5 separate regions of the Homo sapiens genome follow, and regions 1, 2, 4 and 5 are each reported to be linked to region 3. The links are microRNA targets in miRTarBase. Many come from high-throughput screens and were not tested one by one. Region 3 holds a microRNA gene; each other region holds the end of a gene's coding sequence.
The links. The annotated mature microRNA hsa-miR-2116-5p reads GGUUCUUAGCAUAGGAGGUCU and lies in region 3 at 2,326-2,346, shown strand. An mRNA with a match to its seed (bases 2 to 7 or 8) in the 3' UTR can be bound and repressed. Matches are read on the target gene's strand: a 7mer-m8 pairs with bases 2 to 8, a 7mer-A1 pairs with bases 2 to 7 and ends in A, and an 8mer does both.

Region 1: the mRNA of GDNF is a reported target of hsa-miR-2116-5p. The part of its 3' UTR that is shown has no 7-base or 8-base seed match.
Region 2: the mRNA of RPN2 is a reported target of hsa-miR-2116-5p. Seed matches in the 3' UTR shown: 7mer-A1 at 3,357-3,363.
Region 4: miRTarBase lists C1orf52 as a target of hsa-miR-2116-5p. Seed matches in the 3' UTR shown: 8mer at 2,478-2,485.
Region 5: miRTarBase lists TMEM117 as a target of hsa-miR-2116-5p. Seed matches in the 3' UTR shown: 7mer-m8 at 2,284-2,290.

The regions. Positions count from the first base shown.
Region 1 is chr5:37,811,838-37,815,958 of GRCh38, reverse strand. GDNF (glial cell derived neurotrophic factor) reads left to right here. Exons shown (of 3, transcript NM_000514.4): 3 at 1-3,282. The coding sequence ends at 308. Among named protein-coding and RNA genes, the nearest start is that of GDNF-AS1, 26 kb to the left of the region's middle.
Region 2 is chr20:37,240,616-37,244,729 of GRCh38, reverse strand. RPN2 (ribophorin II) reads right to left here. Exons shown (of 17, transcript NM_002951.5): 17 at 3,111-3,427. The coding sequence ends at 3,415. Among named protein-coding and RNA genes, the nearest start is that of GHRH, 19 kb to the left of the region's middle.
Region 3 is chr15:59,169,454-59,173,574 of GRCh38, reverse strand. MIR2116 (microRNA 2116) reads left to right here and starts at 2,313; the gene lies at 2,313-2,392. It overlaps MYO1E (myosin IE), which reads left to right. Exons shown (of 28, transcript NM_004998.4): 22 at 1,533-1,678.
Region 4 is chr1:85,248,878-85,252,998 of GRCh38, forward strand. C1orf52 (chromosome 1 open reading frame 52) reads right to left here. Exons shown (of 3, transcript NM_198077.4): 3 at 1,076-3,825. The coding sequence ends at 3,752. Among named protein-coding and RNA genes, the nearest start is that of C1orf52, 8.7 kb to the right of the region's middle.
Region 5 is chr12:44,387,884-44,392,004 of GRCh38, reverse strand. It overlaps TMEM117 (transmembrane protein 117), which reads right to left. Exons shown (of 8, transcript NM_032256.3): 8 at 2,247-3,979. The coding sequence ends at 3,333. Among named protein-coding and RNA genes, the nearest start is that of NELL2, 490 kb to the left of the region's middle.

The sequences.
Region 1 (4,121 bases), not on the chromosome of region 3:
GCCAGAGGGGCAAAAACCGGGGTTGTGTCTTAACTGCAATACATTTAAATGTCACTGACTTGGGTCTGGGCTATGAAACCAAGGAGGAACTGATTTTTAGGTACTGCAGCGGCTCTTGCGATGCAGCTGAGACAACGTACGACAAAATATTGAAAAACTTATCCAGAAATAGAAGGCTGGTGAGTGACAAAGTAGGGCAGGCATGTTGCAGACCCATCGCCTTTGATGATGACCTGTCGTTTTTAGATGATAACCTGGTTTACCATATTCTAAGAAAGCATTCCGCTAAAAGGTGTGGATGTATCTGACTCCGGCTCCAGAGACTGCTGTGTATTGCATTCCTGCTACAGTGCAAAGAAAGGGACCAAGGTTCCCAGGAAATGTTTGCCCAGAATGGAAGATGAGGACCAAGGAGGCGGAGGAGGAGGAAGAAGAAGAGGAGGAGGAGGAGGAGGAGGAGGAGGAGGAGGAAGGCAGCCATCATGGGAGCCTGGTAGAGGGAGATCCAGCTACAGACAACTGGACAGGAGAGAGAGAAAACAGCCCTCTGGATTCTCCAGGATGGCAGCCGATGTCACTAGAAGCTCAGGGCTGATGTTCCTGGTTGGCTATTGCCACCATTTCAGCTGATACAGTCCACCATCACTGATTACCGGCGCGGTTGCGGTGGATGCACTTGAACCAAACCAGTGTATCTCCTGTGATTTGTTTTCATGTGTCCGAAGACACCAGGGAAACAGAGATCCTGGTGTTGTTCCTTGTTATTACGTTTTACTGCTGAAAGTAAGAGGTTTATTTTTCTGTCACTCAGTGGAGACATACCCTGGAAAGGAGAGGGGAAAAAAAAAGCAAAGATACAAGAGATAATCACCTTTGCATTTGAAAGTTGAGGCCCGAGGTTTACTACAACCAGCATTTTTGCCAACGGTTGGTGATTGATTTCCATCACGGTGTGTGGGGTGGGAAGAAGTTGGCTAGGAACCAAAAAGGCTGTGCTCATGATTAAACACAAACCTGAAGGTATTTCCTTTATGTCCTTGGAAACAGGAAACGAGTTGTGGTTTTCGCCAGCATTCTTGTAGGAGAGAATCGGGGAAGGCCCCGAACTGCCCCCGGGCAGGGAGAGCCCCTCAGGCCTGTTGGTTTACAGAGAGACAGATGTTACATAACCAGCTCCGTTGATGCGTGGTCACCAGTGACCAGAGAAGCTACTCGATGCAATGCATCTGTTTCAGATACAGAAATATAGAGAAGATATTTATTGAAATTTAAGTTATTGTTATTTATTACCGTTCACTAATGAATTTCTCTTTTTTCCCTTATTTATTAAAGTTTCTTTTCAAAGGTGCCAAAGTATATGTGCTCGCAAAATGCAAAGAAAGGTGACAAAAGGAAATTTGAATTGGGAACAAGGGTCCATGCTTTTCAAAGTATTAAAAAGTTTTTTGCCAGGCAAAAATCACTTACTTTACCTTTTTAAGAAAATTTGTCATTAATTTTCCCCAGATTTCAGCATTTTTCCCAATTTTTATTTGTGGAGCATCTCAGGCAAGCCCCCTTTCCTGGAGCAGCGTGCAGAGACCACTGGCACTTGACTTTATTTCTTCCTTGCTCCATTGCTGAACAGAAATGTCGTGGGCTCCACTTCCTGTTGTCTTTAAGCTCTTAGTCCCCTCCACGTATACCTATCTGTACTATGCATAACCATATGTAGAAAAGGTTCAGTTCCTTTTAGTAGGTAGTCCTGGATTTAATGCTGACCTAAAAGTAATGTCGACAATGCTGTCAGGTAGCTGCCGTTCTACCGACTCCCTCCATCCCTGCCCACCCACTGCCCTCCCGAGAATATGCTGGCTGCCCAGTGCAGCCCGGGAGACACAGGGGCCTTCCAGAGGTAGGGTCTACCAGGTCCTGTACAACCCCTGGGCTGTCACCGGGGGTCAACAGCTGCTGCTCCTATATACCCAAACACCTGACAGCTCCCTGGGGAGCAGATGGCTGAGAAGGGTGCTGAGGAAGCCATATTGGGACCAGCCACAGCCACACACATGGAGCCTCATACTTAGGAGCGTGCTGCCTTTAAATGAAGGTGGTCGGGGCCAGTGCAGCGGCTCACACCCATAATCCCAACACTTTGGAAAGCCAAGGTGGGAGGATCTCTTGAACCCAGGAGTTTGAGACCAGCTTGGGCAACATAGGGAGACCCTGTCTCTACAGAAACTTTAAAAATTAGGCAGGCATGATGGTGCACACCTGTGGTCCCAGCTACTCAAGAGGCTGAAGGAGGATCACTTGAGTCCAGAAGGTCGAGGCTGCAGTGAGCTGTGATCATGCCACTGCACTCCAGCCTAAGTGACAGTGCGGTACCCTGTCTCAAAAAAAAAAAAAAAAAAAAAAAGAGGTTGGAGCAGGAGGAAGCATAGGGGCGGGAACAGCCACCTCCTCCATGCCCTAGATTGTGAATTTATCGGGCAGCCAACACATGTATGACACACTAGGCCCTGTATTACAGCTTGTTACGCATTTCATAAAAGGGATTTTCATTAAGGAGATAATCTATTACTACCTACCTTAGTGGCTACTAGTATAAAACTATGACAGATTTAGCAATTAAATGAAATACTGGCCTCCATCAAATAATCATAGTAACAAGAAGCAGCAGTTACCAGACATCTGATCCCCTTCCCCCAAAATACCCAAATTCTTCATGGTTCTGCCCTTCTCTGTCCTTTCTGCTCCCCTTGCTCGCCTGGGAAATGGAGGAAAGGCCTTCCCTCTCACACTGTCTTGGGATCTTGCTGAGAATTCAGACTGCTCGAAACAGTGACAAACCCCAGCCATCCAGTCATTCGTGGAGCACAATTTGGATGTGGCCCCAGGGGCATCTGTCCCATTCAGAGAACCTTGGCAGTGCGATGGCCACTGTTCCCAGGCTTCAACCTCAGTGACCCCCCCCAACAACTCCCCATGGAGAGTCCCTGCCCAAAAAAGCTGTAGGATCCAAGGGGTGTCAATAGCTCGTTCCCGGCATCACCTACACACCACAAGCAGGTTTTAATGGAAGCAAGTTGCTCCACCAAATCCACAAAAGGGTAAAGTTTGTGATTTTTCTTTATCATTGCGATCACCATCTGATACCGTAAGGAGTGCACTTGTTTGGAAGTTCTGACTTCTCTGATCTGTCTTGGTCGTTTGTGTTATAAAACCAAAGTTCTCTACAGACTTTATTTTTGTACAATATCATTTTGTAACTTTTTACAAATAAAAACTCATTTCTATTGCTCTCTGTACTTCTGTACTTCCTTGCATGCACTGGGCCAGGCAGCCATCCACAAGTATTTCTTAGGAATCACCCCCTTCTTACCACACAGCCCACTGGATGGTCAGTGGCCTTGCCTATCAACTCCCAGCAACCAATCACCCACTCAGGAGGGACAAAACTTGCAAAATTGTTCTTATTCATTCAACAAACCCTTATGGTGTGCCTACACTGTGCCAGGCACTGTTCCTGGCACCAGGGCTCTAATGGTGACCAAAGCAAAAACCGCTGTCCTCCTGGAGTTATTTTATTTGCGGGGAGACAGACAACATTCAAAAAAGTAAAATATGTAGTGATCCCTGTGTTGAGAAACGCTAAAAGAATACAAACAGGATCCTATAATATAGACACTAACAGGGGAGCTTGCTTTAATTAGAAATGACTTTAAGACCGAAGTTAAGAAACAGTGCCAACAGATCAGGAGCGTCCCAGGCAGAAGAAGCAGCTTGTATGAAACTGAGTCACGTCACAGACTGCCTTGTGACTATCAAAAGGCGGCCTTGCATGGTGCTCTATGGCTCTTCTGCATGGCCCCAGCCTAGGCTGCCCCATGGATGGCATTTGTGCTGCACTAGCCTTTGCCTGAAATGCCCCCTCTTCCCGATGCACGCCGTCCCTGCGTGGAGACTTGGTGGAGTCACGGGTACCAACCTGTGGGTTCAGGCATTCAGAGTCCTTCTGCCAGGACTGGCTGGAAGAGGCTCCAGGGTGGTGCTGAGGCCAGCTGCGTTTTCTCCAAGCCAAAATTCCAGTCCAAAGTCAGTGACTTGGAGCGGGAACATAAGATGGTAAAACTCCTGCT
Region 2 (4,114 bases), not on the chromosome of region 3:
TGTGCTCAGGAGTATGAGACCAGCCTGGGCAACATTGCAAAATCCCATCTCTACCAAAAATACAAAAATTAGCCCAGTGTGGTGGCACGCGCCTGTAGTCCCAGCTACTCCAGAGGCTGAGGTGGGGGGATCACCTGAGCCTGGGAGGTTGAGGCTGCAGTGAGTCGTGATTGCACCACTGCATTCTGGCCTGAGCAACAGAGCAAGACCCTGTCTCAAATAAAATAAAAAATAAAAAATAAAAAAAAAGGCTTTGCCCAGTGGGCAGGGTCAGACAGACAGCATCTGCCTCTGCTATACCCCAAAATAAAACTCAGGCTGGCCAGGCGTGATGGTGCATGCTTGTAGTCCCAGCTACTCAGGAGGCTGAGGCAAGAGGATCCCTTGAGTTCAAGGTCAGCCTGGGCAACATAGCAAGACCCCATCTCTTTGTTTGTTTTGTTTTAAAAAAGGTCCTAAGAGAAAAATCAGTCCCCTTTACCACAGCCCCTAAAAGCCAAGTTTGTTCTGGCTTCTATCCCAGCGAGGATGCCGTTCCTGCCAGTGACACCCTGGCTGCTTGGCCTGCTTCCAGTCAGAATGTGCCGTGCTCTTGCCCCAGAGCCTCCATGCTGGCTGATTCTCTGGCCGGAGTGCTCTTCCTCAGCTTGGCATAGGCGCCTTCTCATTCTTCAGGTCTCAGCTGAGACCTCCCAAGCCATCAAGGTAAGAACTGCTTCCTCTGAGGCCCTTCTCACATGTGTGATCACTGCTTCCTTTCTCCCTCAGCTGGGTGCCCGTGGGCTGTACCTGGACCAAGGGAAGGGACTGGATCTGTCTTGCTCCCTGTGGTAGCTCTGGACACAGAACACAGCCTGGCACATGGCAATGTTTACTGGGCTCTGTTCTCCAGCTCCCATCTGAGTCTGCAGGCCAGCCCCAAACCAGCCCGGGAACCCCTTACTTAGCTGTGCCAGCCGTTTCTCCAAAAAGCTGTTTCCCGACTTCCTTCCTTCCAGCCACTGGCTGTCCTTTGTTCCCAGTGACCAGGACACCCAGCAGCCTTTGTACTTCCACCCTCAGGCCCTACTACCCCTGCTCCACACCACTGTCCACCAGCCCCGCACCCAGTCTGTCTTCCAGGCCCGCACAGGTCTGGTGATAGGTGGCAAGTGTCCCTGCTCTCATCCCACACGCTGCTGGGGCTCTCTTTCCTCTCCAGTCTGAGCGGCTGAGGTCCCAGCACACCTAAGTAGGAACACTAGGAGCCGCCCAAGAGCAACAGGAAACCACCATCACCCCTTCCCCTCCGAGTGGGATAAGAAACTAAAAAGTGGAGGATCCCAAAGGTATATGCCTATGGGAGCCAGGCAGGTATCAGAGAAGCACAGTCGCCAGGTGGACTGGCGCAAGTGTCCTGTATGTGGACACCTGTGCGGGGAGGGGCTGACAAGCTGGAGCTTGCAGGCTCCATCCAAAGGGACGAGCTGCTATTCAGTGTCAGCTGACTGCTGCCGTTCAGGAATCAGGCCCGCCGTGGACAGCTCTAGTTTTCTCTTTCAGGAGAATCCAGAATCCAAAACCAAGATTTTTATATAAAATCTGTCTTCAAATGTTGGCAACTTACTCAATTTTTAAAAAAACACTACAGATCACAAGTTTGCAACCTCTGGGAAGGAGAAGCCTCCTTCCCATCTTAGAGGCATCCCTGTAACTGCCCACATCATCCTCTTACCTATAGGATCCCATTCAGAACGGCATAGAGTTCTAGAATCTTCTTTCCCTTTTTCCCAATCAAAATCCCAATTTCTTCACTGTAGTAAGGTCCAGCTAGTTGGGAAGCAATCTGATTAAAATAAAACAACTTCCAGACCCCCAATTCAATAAATACTATGAGGATTACCATATTTCACAAGTTAACTAAACTTATTATGTTTCAATTAATATTAGGTTGGTGCAAAAGTAATTGCAGTTTTTGCCATTCTAGAACTAGAGGCAATGGGCCAAGGCACATAACCGTAGGTCAATCAGGAAAGATGCCAAGTGCTAAGCTGCGTCAGCATTCAACTCCTTTAATCCTATGAGGTAGGTAGTTATCATCTCTCTTTTACAGAAACACAAAAGGAGGTTTACGGAGGTTAAACTACTTGCCCAAGGTCCCTCACCCTAGTAAGTGGCAACACTAGGTTTGCCTGGAACCAAAGTCTACGCAGTCAACCATGCTATGCAGTATTACTTCTCTCTGTGCTATTATATAACCTCATGTAATGGGCACAACTTCAGAGGGGGCATTCTTGAGATGTGGCCTTCTAGACTAAAGTCACTCAAGTGGTCAGTGCTATGGTTTGAATTTGTGTCCCTTGAAAATTCATGTTGCAACAAATCTCCATGCAAGTCTTTTTTTTTTTTTTTTTTTTTGGAGATGGAGTCTGGCTCTGTGGCCCAGGCTGGAGTGCAATGGCTCACCGCAACCTCCGCCTCCCAAGTTCAAGCTGTTCTCCTGCCTCAGCCTCCCAAGTAGCTGGGATTACAGGCATGCACCACCATGCCCACCCCTTGGCTAATTTTGGTTTTTTAGTAGAGACAGGGTTTCACCATGTTGGCCAGGCTGGTCTCAAAACTCCTGACTTCAAGTGATCCCCCTGCCTCGGCCTTCCAAAGTGCTGGGATTACGGACGTGAGCCTCCATGCCTGGCCCCAAGACAAGAGCCTTGAGCAGAGGTCCTAGCTGCAGTCCACCTGCACATTCCTGTTGTTTAGCTGTGTTCTTGCCAAGTCACACTCAGTATCTAACCTAACACAGAAAGATTCTCAAAAATGGGACTCAGCTCACAGAAAATGTTAAAGGGGATAAAAACCTATCCCCTTGGACCCCTAGAGGTCCAAATGGGGCCTTCAGATACCAACAGGGCTCCTATGCAGACAGCTGGTGCTCACTGCTGGAGAAGAAAAAAGGAAGCTGGCCTTTCCAGGCAGTTCTCAGTTCTGTTAGGAGCAAGGGGCAAGAAGGACCAAGAAAGGCCTGGAGAAATATGCTGGCATCAACAGCATTTCCAACTAAGTCCTCATGTCATATACCCAAGGACCCCACCACCCAAAAGTATGAGAATAAGCTCTCAATCAGGCCTTTGTTCCTATTGTTACCCTCTTTATTCCAAAACAATTACACATTTCAACTTTTCAAAAGCAACATCTGGGTAAGTTAGGAATATTCACAGCTTCTTACACAGTGTCAGAGAAAGAGACTATCTGAGCTCACCAGGTATCTGCTGTGTGTTGGGGAAACTGAAAAACAAGCAAAAGTATAACTACAATCTGGACTTTTTTCTTTTTTAAATAAAGTTTTTTTTTTCCATTTTTCTTCTCATACTGTGAATTGTTCTTGACTCCTTTTCTTGACATTCAGTTTTCAGAATTTCCATCTTTCTTCTGGAACTAATGTGCTGTTCTGAAAGAAAATGGAGACAAACACAGAATTACTGAAGGTTTCAGTTCACAGTTACAGTTCCTAACTGGTGACAACAGAGAGACTAAGGTACTCTCCCGCTCTAAGATCCCATTTATAAGGGAATAATCATTTATCTCCCAAGTCTATTTATGTATGCCCCATCTCATTTTACAAAAGAATGTGAGACAGCTAGTTCATAATTAAGCTGATGACAACTTAAATACAAATAACAAAACAAACTCAATAATAACTAAGAAAGTGGTATGTGACAACATAAGGAGATGAGGTAATTCCAGGCACACCTCTCACAGTGCAAGGCCAAAAACACAGTGTAAATTTCAATTAGATGAACAAAGAGCAAAGTTTAAATAATGCTCATCATCAATCTCCCAGACTCCAGCTCTGCCAACCAACACTTGGCCCTTCTGTAGCTTAGAACATGACATCCTGACCATTCATTACAGAAACCTGCACATTCCTGCCGTGTGGCCGTGTTCTTGCCAAGTCACACTCAGCATCTAACCTAACACAGAAAGATTCTCAAAAATGGGACTCAGCTCACAGAAAGTGTTAAAGGGGATAAGAACCTATCTCCTGTACTCTTTGTTTCCCCTCCGCTGCCTTTCCCTAGACTCTAAGGAGGGATGGGGAAGCACAATGAATGAAAATGACAATCTAGACAGACTG
Region 3 (4,121 bases):
TGTTAACATTCTGTGTATATCCATATCTTTCAGAATGTTTTTATGAAAACATACATTTGCGTATTTAGTTTTACAAAAAATGAGATATACATTACATGCTGTTTTATGTCCTGAAGTGGTTTTTTGTTTGTCTTTTAAATAATGCGAGAATTTTCGATAGTAATACAGTTAGCAATATAAGTTATTTTACATGGCTGCATAGTATTCCATTTGACAGATGCTTTATTATTTTTAACCAGTTTCTCATGAATCAATTTTTAGTGAGTTTTTCTTTTTTACTATCGTAACTTCAGTGAGCATCTTTTCACACATCTTTGTGTATCTATCTGTCTCCTAATATTTTTAGAAGAAATTGATAGGAGTGAAATCGTTGAATCAAAGGATTCAGAGTATCAAGTAATATTGCAGAGTATCCTCATCCATTTTCCCAGAGTGGCTGATAAGTAAGGCTTTTCCAGCCACAGGAGGAACAGTTGATTTTTCACCTCCTCCTTTAGATACCTTTTGATAAAGTCTTGGTCCTAATAGAAAAATCTGAAGCTTCAGAAGCTCATGGACCCGTTAAGAGCTTTTGGCTTTTTGCCAGGGGCGGGGAGGTCAAGAAAAAAATTTAACGAAATAAACAACGGAAGCATGTTTTGCTAAAACCAAACCATTCCTTGCAACCTGTGCATGGCACCAGCTGCTGTGACGGCAGCCCTGGATGCACACAGGGGTGCTTAGCTCTCGCAGCGGTACTCATTATAAAGTGGTTACCCACAAATTCCCAAGTAGATTTCTATTAGATTATTGAGAATTATCATTCAAATGACAATATATCAGTATTTTAGAATGAAAATTTTATGAACTCCCAAGAAAATATATGCAGACACTGCCCCCTGTTTAGAAACATGCTGTAGTGCATCCTTGCTAAGTTCACCACAGGTGTTGGTGACTTTCCCTTTACACCTGCTGTCCTGATATGTGAAGTGACTCCATATGAGTTTGCCAGTTTTTAAGTCAAAAAGAGTCAAATGTCATCATTTTTTACATGTCATCCTAATAATCATGAACAATGCCCTCTTTCACTGTCATGGGGCCCGGTCATGTGATGAATGGAATGGCCTCTCAACAGTAGTGAAGATTGACTGTCCAAGGCAGCTTCCCCCTGTCCTGGTAACAGCAGTCCACTGTGTGAATTGTTGTCATCACATTGACCATGTCTGTCCACCTTTTTTTGAGACGGAGTCTTGCTCTGTCACCCAGGCTGGAGTGCAATGGCGCAATCTCGGCTCACTGCAACCTCCACCTCCCAGGTTAAAGCGATTCTCCTGCCTCAGCCTCCCAAGTAGCTGGGATTGCAGGCGCCCACCACCACACCCAGCTAATTTTTGTATTTTCAGTAGAGACGGGGTTTCACCATGTTGGTCAGGCTGGTCTCGAACTCCTGACCTCAGGTGATTCACCCGCCTCGGCCTCCGAAAGTACTGGGATTACAGGTGTGAGCCACCATGCCTGGCCTGTCCAGCTTCTTAAAGCTCCTCTCCTTACAGGGTGTAAAGCGAGACCTGCTCCTTACCCCAAAGTGCTTGTACTTAATCGGACGAGAAAAAGTCAAACAGGGCCCAGACAAGGGCCTGGTGAAAGAAGTCCTGAAGCGGAAAATCGAGATAGAACGGATCTTGTCTGTGTCCCTCAGGTGAGTAGTGGAGGTGCAGAGGCAGGACTGCCCCTTCTCGCCTCAGCATCACGGTCCGCTGTTCCAAACAGCCAGGAGGAAGGCCGGGCTGGGCTTCCCAGCTGTCAAAATCATGATCAAGAGAATGGAATTTCCCTTTGTCCCAAAGGGAAGACTCCCTAGTCTCAGCAAGTCTTGATATGTCAGGAAGAAGGTACCAAGAAAAGGTTGCCTCCGGACAGCTCCTCTAATCAAGGGGGACCCAGATCTCTTGTAACCGAAACGTGTTAGAAATGAACCCGGTATATGGAACACCTCAGAGAATAATTTCTCTTGTTGCAGTAGAGCCAAGGATTCAGAGCCCTGTCCCCCAGTCCACCTCACCCAGGTTGGAGGCCTCACCCATTTCCCTGAGCAGAGGGTCCTGAAAGGGAAGTTTCTTTGGGACTTCCTTAGGGAGTGCAAGTTGGTCTCCATTCTCTGTAGCCCTGGAGTCATCGTGAGATGCTCTCTTCGCTCCAATTCTCAGGCAGTGGGGAGTGGTGTTTGCTTCCACAAGGCCTCAGGAAGGGCCCTTGCTCCTCCCGGCAGCACCTTGGCTTCCTCTCGGCAGAAGGGCTCCTCTGCCGGCCGTCAGCATCTCCTCCGTCAGTGGGACCTAGGCTAGGGGTTCTTAGCATAGGAGGTCTTCCCATGCTAAGAAGTCCTCCCATGCCAAGAACTCCCAGACTAGGAGTCCTCCCATGCTAAGTCCTCCCGAAGTCCTCCCATGGTAAGAACTCCTAGACTAAGTTCCGCTGACACAGGAAATCCTCGCAATCCATGAAGACTAAGAATGGAAGAAAGGCCTCCTTGAGCCCCATAGCTTCCTCCAAGAATCGTGTCCCTGGGCCTCTGAGGCTAACACTACTTTAATCAGGAAAAGCTTTGGGCCTTTGCATTAAAGATGTTCTGCTCTCACATGAACATGGAATTGGGACGCCTGTCAAACTCTTACTCCACACAGAAGGCAAAACTGGTGCGCTCAGGAAAAAGCAGGGGTTTTATGTGCTCAGGCGTCTGATGTACCAAGCTGGAAATCCTAGTTCCAGTCTGATAATCCAAAACAGATTTCTAGTTGCATCCATTCTTGCCTGTGTCTCTGTGGTTTCTGATTCTATCTGTTCCTAATTTCCCTGGATAAAGGACCAGGCAGTGCAGTGCAGTGAAGTATTTAAAACGTGCCAACTCAGGATGTGGTAAAGTTGCTAAGCAGATGAGTCCGCAGTGTCCATTTTGCAGCCCCACCTCAGGTAGGTTTCAAGGCTATTGTTTTTTTTGTTTTTTTTTTAAAGCTCTAGGCGCTGACTGATTTTCTGAAGGCCTTCCTAAACATTCAGCTCACTGGCTGGGTCCCAACCTGAGCGGGGCAGTGCCTGCTGGCCACACTCTTCCTGGCTAGCTGGGCCCTGAGGCTGCCGTGGAAACCCAACAGGAAGCTCCTGCTTTGTTTGTCATTGCATGGGGCCCTGCCATGCCTGGACTAAGCCAGGTTGGCCACAGCGTGCTTGGCAGGCACAGCAGGTGAAAGTCAGGGAACCACAGCTCTAGGGTGTGTGTAGTCGCTGTGCCGAGAGTGACTTGTTCTTTCTGTTATTGCCCAGGTATGTCTTCAGTCCCTCAGACCCCTGGTGGAGTGCTCATGACTGGGACCATAAATTATCCTAATTGAGCTACATTTGTGTGGTTGTTTTGTTTTGTTTTGTTTTGTTTTGTTTTAGACAGAGTCTCGCTCTGTCACCCAGGCTGGAGTGCAGTGGCGTGATCTCAGCTCACTGCAACTTCTGCCTCCCTGGTCCAAGTGGTTCTCCTGCCTCAGGCTCCCGAGTAGCTGGGATTACAGGCCTGAGCCACCACCCCTGGCTAATGTTTGTATTTTTAGTGAGAGACAAGGTTTCACCACGTTGGCCAGGCTCGTCTTGAACTCCCGACTTCAAGTGATCCACTCATCTCAGCCTCCCAAAGTGCTGGGATTAGAGGCGTGAGCCACCGTGCCTGGCCTTGAGCTACACTTGTATCAAGCACTTTGACACTTACTATCTTATTGATAAGTCCTTGAGGGGGTTGTCAAGCAGGGACTGTAGGGACTGTTCACACTCAAATTTCTTCCTTTTATTGTTTTTTGTTTGTTTATTGTCTTCTTTTACAGCCTCTGGGGATATAATCTGTCATGGGAGCACCAGCTTCTTTTTCTTCTTCCTGTTCAGTATTCATTATCTGGAAGGTTCCTTTCTTGCGGTCTTTCCTTTTTAAAGGCTGTAGTAAAATGAGGTACTTAGCCTAAAAGTTTTTCTGACTCTAAGGAAAAAAAAAGAAAGTGTGAGTCATTTGAACTTGTGATGTCTGTGTATTGCAGTCACTGAACCTCACACTTGCCAAGATGAATAATAGTGTCCCCTCATTTCTTTATACTTGAGTTAGGCCA
Region 4 (4,121 bases), not on the chromosome of region 3:
CACTAGGTGGTGCCACAGCAGGGACTCTGGGGGTTTCAACCCCACATTTCCCTTCTGCACTGCCCTAGCAGAGGTTCTCCATGAGGGTCCCCATCCCTGCAACAAACTTCTGCCTGGGAATCCAGTTGTTTCCATACATCTTCTGAAATCTAGGCAGAGGTTCCCAAAGCCCAATTCTTGACTTCTGTGTACCTGCAGGCTCAACACCACATGGAAGCTGCCAAGGCTTGGGGCTTGCATGCTCCGAAGCCATGGCCTGAGCTCTACGTTGGCTCCTTTCAGCCATGGCTGGAGTGGCTGGGATACAGGGCACCAAGTCCCTAGGCTGCACACAGCACAGGAATCCTGGGTCCAGCCCACAAAACCACTTTTTCCTCCTAGGCCTCTGGGCCTGTGATGGGAGGGGCTGCTGTGAAGACCTCTAACCTGCCCTGGAGACATTTTCCCCGTTGTCTTGGGGATTAACATTTGGCTCTTCATTACTTAAGCAAATTTCTGCAGCCAGGTTAAATTTCTTCTCAGAAAATGGGATTTTCTTTTCTATGGCATTGTCAGACTGCAAATTTTCTGAACTTTCAAGCTCTGCTTCCCTTATAAAACTGAATGCCTTTAATGGCATCCAAGTAACCTCTTGAATGCTTTGCTGCTTAAAAATTTCTTCCACCAAATACCCTAAATTATCTCTCTCAAGTTCAAAGTTCCACAAATCTCTAGGACAGGGGCAAAATGCCACTAGTCTCTTTGCTAAAACATATCAAGAGTGACCTTTGCTCTAGTTCCCAACAAGTTCCTCATCTCCATCTGAGACCACCTCAGCCTGGATTTCATTGTTCATATCATTATCAGCATTTTGGTCAAAGCCATTCAACAAGCCTCTAGGGAGTTCCAAACTGTCCCATATTTTCCTGTCTTCTTCTGAGCCCTCCAAACATTCCAAGCTCTGCCTTGTACTCAGTTCCAAAGTCACTTCCACGTTTTTGGGTATCTTTTCAGCAGTACCCCACTCTACTGGTACAAATTAACTGTATTAGTCCATTTTCATGCTGCTGATAAAGACATACCAGAGACTGGGCAATTTGCAAGAAACAGGTTTAATTGGACTTACAGTTCCACATGGCTGAGGAAGCCTCACAATCATGGCAGAAGGCAAGAGGAGCAAGACACATCTTATGTGGAGGGCAGCAGGCAGAGAGCTTGTGCAGGGCAACTCCCTGCACTGATGGTTTTTAAAACCATCAGATCTCGTAAGACTCATTCACTATCATAAGAACAGCACCGGAAAGACCCACCCCCATAATTCAGTCACCACCCATGACACGTGGGAATTGTGGGAATTACAATTCAAGTGAGATTTGGTTGGGGACACAGCCAAACCAGATCAGGATCTCAACATGTTGCCCAGGCTTAACTTAAAGTGCAGGAAACAATCAGAAGTATCAAGTGACTCGATTCTCTAAAATGAAAGATACTTGGACAGATGATTTTTCTTATGTATATGGATTTTTAAGACTTTTCCCCACTAGGTTTCCACTAGCTCAACCAAACTTCACCTCAGTACCCACATGGACACTTGTGCAAACACGTTCCCAGGACATCTCTAAAGGGGAAAATAATCTATTCTCTAATGTGATGATGAATGTAGAGTGATATGACAGTCCGTTTTCCAACCAGGAGATACAAATGGCTGAGTCAGACTTGCTCCAAAATATTTAGCCTCTTCCCTAAGTCCTGTCTTCCTCCTCATACAACATACTCTGCACATCTCCCAGGAAAGAGAGAAAAAAGTTTGCTTTCATGCTAACTTAAGAACCTTGCAATATTTCAGTAACTTCTGAGATATTTGCTCCACCAACACATGCATCCAAATTTTAGATTTCTCCAGAGCTTGGGAATCACAACTTCACAAATATAACTTGATTTGGTTGTGTTTGGTGTCATGTACATACTATGGTCTTGCTTTGTCACTTGATGCCACTCCTTAGTATATGATACCACAGATTTCCAAATTCATTACAAAGACTACAATCTTAAAAAAACATATTCTTGCTTTAGCAATTACTTCAATTTTGGGATTCATATATTTGCAAACCTGGAGGATGGGCAGCTATAGAATTGGTTTTTCTAAACTCGATGATATACTGGAAGCCATCATGCTGTTATGGACCTTCATTCCACAAAGCACCATGGCTGATGCAATCACTCTTAATGACTTTTATGAATTTTAATCTACTTGATACACATGCCTAGGTAAACAAATCTCGCGTAATTGTTCAAATTTTATCTTCCACAATGGGGAAAAACAGATTTAAAAAAAAATACTTAGATTATGTCTTTTTCTTTCTAAATTATTTTTTGTAAAGATGAGGTCTTATCATGTTGTCTAGGCTGGTCTCCAACTCTTGGCCTCAAGCTATCCTCCCACCTTGGCCTCCCAAAGTGCTGGGATTACAAGCATAAGCCACCATGCTTGGCTGTCTTGTTCTTATACACTGAATGTGCACTGTTCTGTAATTCTTATCTCTTAAGGGCTTCAGATTCATGGAAAGATTGATGCAGAGTGTAACCTTTTTATTGTTCAAAATGCTACAAATAACTGCATTTTGGAACTCAACGATCACACCTTCCCAACTACTTCTTGTTCATTTTATTATTACTATACGCAAAGCATTAAAATAGAAGCTGGGTAGAGAAAACATGTAGAAGTAGGGTTACCAGATAAAAGATGTTCAGTTAAATTTGAATTTCAGATAAACACATTTTTTGTATATGTCCTGAATATTAAATATACTAAAACATTATTTATCTGAAATTCAAATTTAACTGAATGTCCTGTAAACTTACAATTTAATAAAGAAATTAATGAATAACCATAAAGCACAGATGACAAGTACAGTCATCCAATCAGGAGAGGAAAAGATCTCTACTAACGGATCTCCAGGTACAACAGAAAAAAGTACCTGGAAGAGATGACAATTGATGTCATTCCTGAAAGATGACTAAATTTTGACTGGTGGACAGGTGGTTTAATGTGATGATTTTGAGGTTCAAGTGTCCCAAGTTAAATTCCAAATGAACCACTCACTAGCTGTGTAACATCAGACAAGCTACTCAAGCACTCTTTATTATAAAATGAGAATACTAATAATACCTTGCGCTAGGTTGTTTAAGGATCAGAGAAAATATATGCACAAAGCACCTGGAACACAGGAGGCACTCTTTAAATGGTAATACTTCTTATTACAACTTAAAATGTCACACGACAAATAGGGTACTTGTCACAGACAAACATTCAAATGTTAATGTTATACAGTAATAGTAATATTGAATAAGTAATTTTATTTCCATGATCTATTTACACTGTACAAAGACTGTTGAAAAGCACCCTACAAGTTCACAGTACATTACAATATATTTACTTTAAAAATATATTCCTTTATAAAAGGTTTATAAGAACATTGGCATGTCAACATGTGACAAAACTCTCAAAGCATGTCACCAATTCTGTGAGAGCAAGAATGCATCCAAGTGTTATCAATTTCACAATCACAAGTCACCAGTTGAGTTTTAAATACATACATGTTTTAAATAAAAAAAGAATTCTATAGTGGAAAGTTCTTGAGGCAATACTTATTAGTTCATTAACGTATGCATTTTCATGGAGATGTGGCATAATAACCCACAATATCAACTTAATCTGTCCAAAGAAACATTTCAACAAGTTTAGCAGTACAGAAATTCTGGTCATTTGTTTCTACTTTTTCTTCTTTGCTGGTTCTCCTGGCTCTACTTTGCGCTTTTTAGAAGTATGCTCATCTTTTTCATCATCTTTAAATAGAAAAGGAAGAGTTTCAATCAGTAATTTTAAAAAACCCAACATGTTAAGCATTAAAATTTCACTGGCTTTATACCAAAATTATTACCCTCATCAATTAATGTTTCTCTCAGAGTTTCCCAATAAAAAACAAGAATTAACTTTTAGAGCTCTGATTTTTAAATGCAAGTGAAAGTGAGCAATTTTTTTTTTCAATTGCAGCCATACAAAATTCACAAAGTAACTCTTTAGGTGCTATACTAAGGTAGCTTAAAATAAGTGACTTTACTTCCCCCAAATCAGACTTTTG
Region 5 (4,121 bases), not on the chromosome of region 3:
GCAGAATTAATTGAGTTGCTCTTGCTGTCTCAAGGGTACGGGCTGGCTAATAGGTCAGAGTTGGGTTCTGAGGGACAAAGCTCGAAGAAATCAGGCCAGATAGAGTAGTGAGCCAAGTCAGTCTCAGAGGGAAAAACCAATATAAGCATAATACCCTACTTGTAGCTGCCTAAGCATGAGTTGAAATTTAAAATAAGGGTTAGTTCAGAGTGAAGGCAGATGAGAAACAATGGCAGGGTACTGAGGTCTTAGCTGAATGTCAGATAATCCAGTTGGCCTCCTGAATTATCAGTTATAGAGACATTTAGGATTTATTAGCATTGTCTTTCTCATATTTCATATTGGGCTGTGTTGGTGACCCATGGGGAAGCCAAATAATGTGATAAAATTGCTTATGGAGCCCAGTGGTGAGCTACCATGTATTGACTCCCTCCTTCAAATCTGAATGCCTGTGTTGGACTTCTTTCCACTGTACTGTCAGCCAGTGGTGCAGTGTTTTTGGACATTACTTGTGTGAAATCTGATACTACAAAAATAAAAAAAATTTGTACCTGGTTGACTCTTAGGGCAGATGGAGAAGAAATAATTCTTAACATTTTAAACAGAATTTGCTGGTGATCTCAGCTATGCTAAAAGATAAGGTAACATAAGTAGCTACCATGGGGAGAAAATAGGGTAACTAATTATGATTATACAATACAAATAGACATGTGGTGATGAGATTTATGTCTAAGTGTATATTATCAGGCACAAATTCATAGTGTTTATTTAATTTTCCATTTCAACTACTAATGAAGTACTTTATAAATGTAGGATACTAAAATTATGTCAAATTAGTTCAAATTCTGCACTATGTGGAAGAAAGTACTGTAATTACTGAACAGTAGAAATATAATTGTTTATAGTACTTAAGCATCACTGCAATTAAGACATCACATTTGTTAAGCTTTCTTTAGAATCTGTGCTTAGTAATTTTTTAAATCCTTTTTTTTAACCTCAATTTCTGAGATTGCTACACATCTCTTTTTAAAATGTCCTTAATAGTTTAAAAGTTTTGGTATTCAAAAATCTCTGTAGAGTCTCAGTCTATTGGTATGACTCAGGATTCAAGACTGAATGTGAATGGATTTAATTTTTAGTTTATTTCATTTTAGTATCTTTACTTGGTATAAATGCAATACCCAAAAGAGGCAGCAAAAGAAGAAAGTAGATCCATATGTAGGTAAGAAAAGGTCACTATCAGTATATACAATTCAACAGTTGGAAGCCTTAGAAGGCTGAAGTCTTGTTTGACTATTAAAATGTCCTTGGAAATTGTTCCATTTGTTACTAAATTTATGAAAATTTAAATATATATTTTCATTTTTTTAATAGTTTTTCTAGCTAATCCCTAGAAACACATAAACATGTTGTTCTAAGTTTGTTATTTTTTTTCTGTCTTACTTCTGCTAATTAGATTTTCTCATTAAAACATTTTCCATTAATACCCATGTAAAAATTCTCAAATAATATTTTTATAAGTCATGCATATTGATAATAAACGTCTACTTTCTAAATCAACTTCTTTCGTCATTCTATAAGACAATGACTTTCAGAATAAATAAAAATGTGGTACTAGGTGTTATTATTTACATGTCCCAGAGCTAAAAGTTGAATGTTCTAGGCTGCCAAAATTTAGTAATAGCTAGTGTTGCCACCTATCAGACATACATGGTAAGTTCCTTTAGATAGTATGGGCAATGGGTTACTATAGTGAGCTTGATCTCTGCATTTGTGTGTGTGTGTGTGTGTGTGTGTGTGTGTGTCAGATATGTTTATGATTCTAAGTAGCACCATGCATGGCTATTAAAGGTAAAAGTAACAGCAGGGGCATGGTTCCAAATGCTTAGTAAAGATGTTTATTAAAGCTGGCTCTCAAGTGACAGATAAATGCATAGTTCTATTATGCATGCTAAATTCAGTATGCTGCAAGCTTAAAAGTAGATAGATCAAAACAAGAGAGATTTAAAAAATCATAAAGAAAAAATGCAGCTATGTCAGTGTGTGACAGGAAAATAATTTTTCCTTAAAAGTGATCTCCCTCACCCCCTCAAGAAACGTAACCACAATTTATGGAACAAAATTGAAAGCAAGTTGGCAGTGTGCCTTCTCTTAACTTGCCTGGCATCAAGCTATAAAAACCCCATGTAAATGGACTTTTCTTAAGCCAAGATACAATTAAACAAAAAACTACATCACATAATCACTGCTGTATAATTCTTATTTATTAATGTGCAATATTTAGTTCTTAAAAAACAAAAACAAAAAACACATACGCAAAACAAGACATTAAACAAATTCTTTCATGCACGGCTTCTCTACCTGACAAGGTTCCGCTGCATGATTTTTTGAGGAGTTCCCTTGCTCAGGGTTGGCATATGTTTTTCAATTTTCACTATCCAGAGCCATATTTGCAGAAAGATATACGAATATTGTAAATGGTGGGATGTGCTGCTCTCATATGATGAAAACTTCAGTTCCTTGGTTGTCTGGGACTTTGTGTAAATGCCAATAAATTTGAGAGTTCGCCCAACTGTGTCTCTTAACCTTTGTTCCCAAAGGTGAAGGGCAGGATTTTTAATCAAGTAGCAATTTATCTTTAATTAGGAAAACATAATTAGGTATCATCACCTCATTTCAATTACTGGTGGGAGAAAGTCACATTTCACGAGTAGTGACCCATGTTGGGTTATGGATCTCCTATTACTGAATTTTGCATCTGTATTTATATTTGGCAGACAGCCAATAAAAATTAAAAGGTGATCACCATGTTTCTCTGCAGTCCAGTTGTCAAAGTCACCAACTCTGCTGCTGAATAAGAAACCAAGAGATACTTCCTGAGTCACATTTAGCTATTTCTGTTTTCTGCTCAGACATCAAGTGTAGATCAAAATAGTTGTATACAAAACGCCCATGTGAAATAGGTTAGGTAACTGTTCCACACTTCATTTCTGGTACAGTTAAAAACAGTTTAATGTCTCAAGGCACCACTATGGTTGAACATCAGATACATGGGTCATCAGCTAATCTTCCACTATGCTGTAAAGTCAGTAATAGCTTGTGCAATTGTGAAAAGCAATCTCTAGAGGACTGTTGAGTATACAGTAGGCACGTGTATTATAATACAAATAGAAAACAATGAATCCTAGAAAAAGCATGTTGAGCACCGTTGTGGCATTGTTCATATTTTTACCTAACACTACGTAAACCTTACATATACAAAAGGAAAGACTAAATTTTTAAAGTTACACTCAAGGTTGCTTTTTGTGTTATCTCCAAGTCTATCTCCGAGTCTAGTTCGTAGGTGTACTTTTAGAAGTCGTTGGGTCTTGATCAGCTTCTGTTGCACTAGTAGATTCGTTCAACTGTGAGCTCAAGTTTTCCGAGGTTAGGTGGGAAGACTTGTAGACGATCTCATTGAAGTCAGACCTGATGCAAACCAAAGAAGGGTCATTCAAGGGGTCTTCTACTGAAGCCTGGGTGTTTTCTCGAGTGATTCCCATGTCTTTGCTATGTTCTGATGGAGATTTTCTTTTCATGCGAGTGTAAGTTTTGTCTTGATTCTCCATGCGTGGCTCATTTTTCAAAAATCGTCCAAAGAACCAAATAAAGAATCCAAACCACACAAAGGCTATCAGGCTTGGAACAAAGGCCAGACACTTGACATCAAGACTGGCTCCTATGAACCTGCTGTGTAAGAACATGTCTCCCTCAACATATGTTTTATTAGTCCGAGGGTTAGTGTGATTGGACCTCCATTCCCAGGATAGCTTGGTTCTGTTCAAATCTTTTAAACTTTCTGAGTCTTTCACTGTATATATCTTCTGCCCCGGGCCGATATATTGCCCATATTCATGAGGTTTATAAAATATTTGGTTCTTCCACATATTAAGATCCAAAATCAAGACGAGGAAGATAATTCCATAGTTAAACCATTTGCCTGCATTAAAAAAGAAATACTGCATTAATCAAAGGGCCATAAAATTGCAATAAGGTTTTCTACAATAAAATGAGGATAATGGTATAATAACATCAATTGTTAATGTTTCAGACTGGTTAACAATTAATATTTTGAGAGTGCT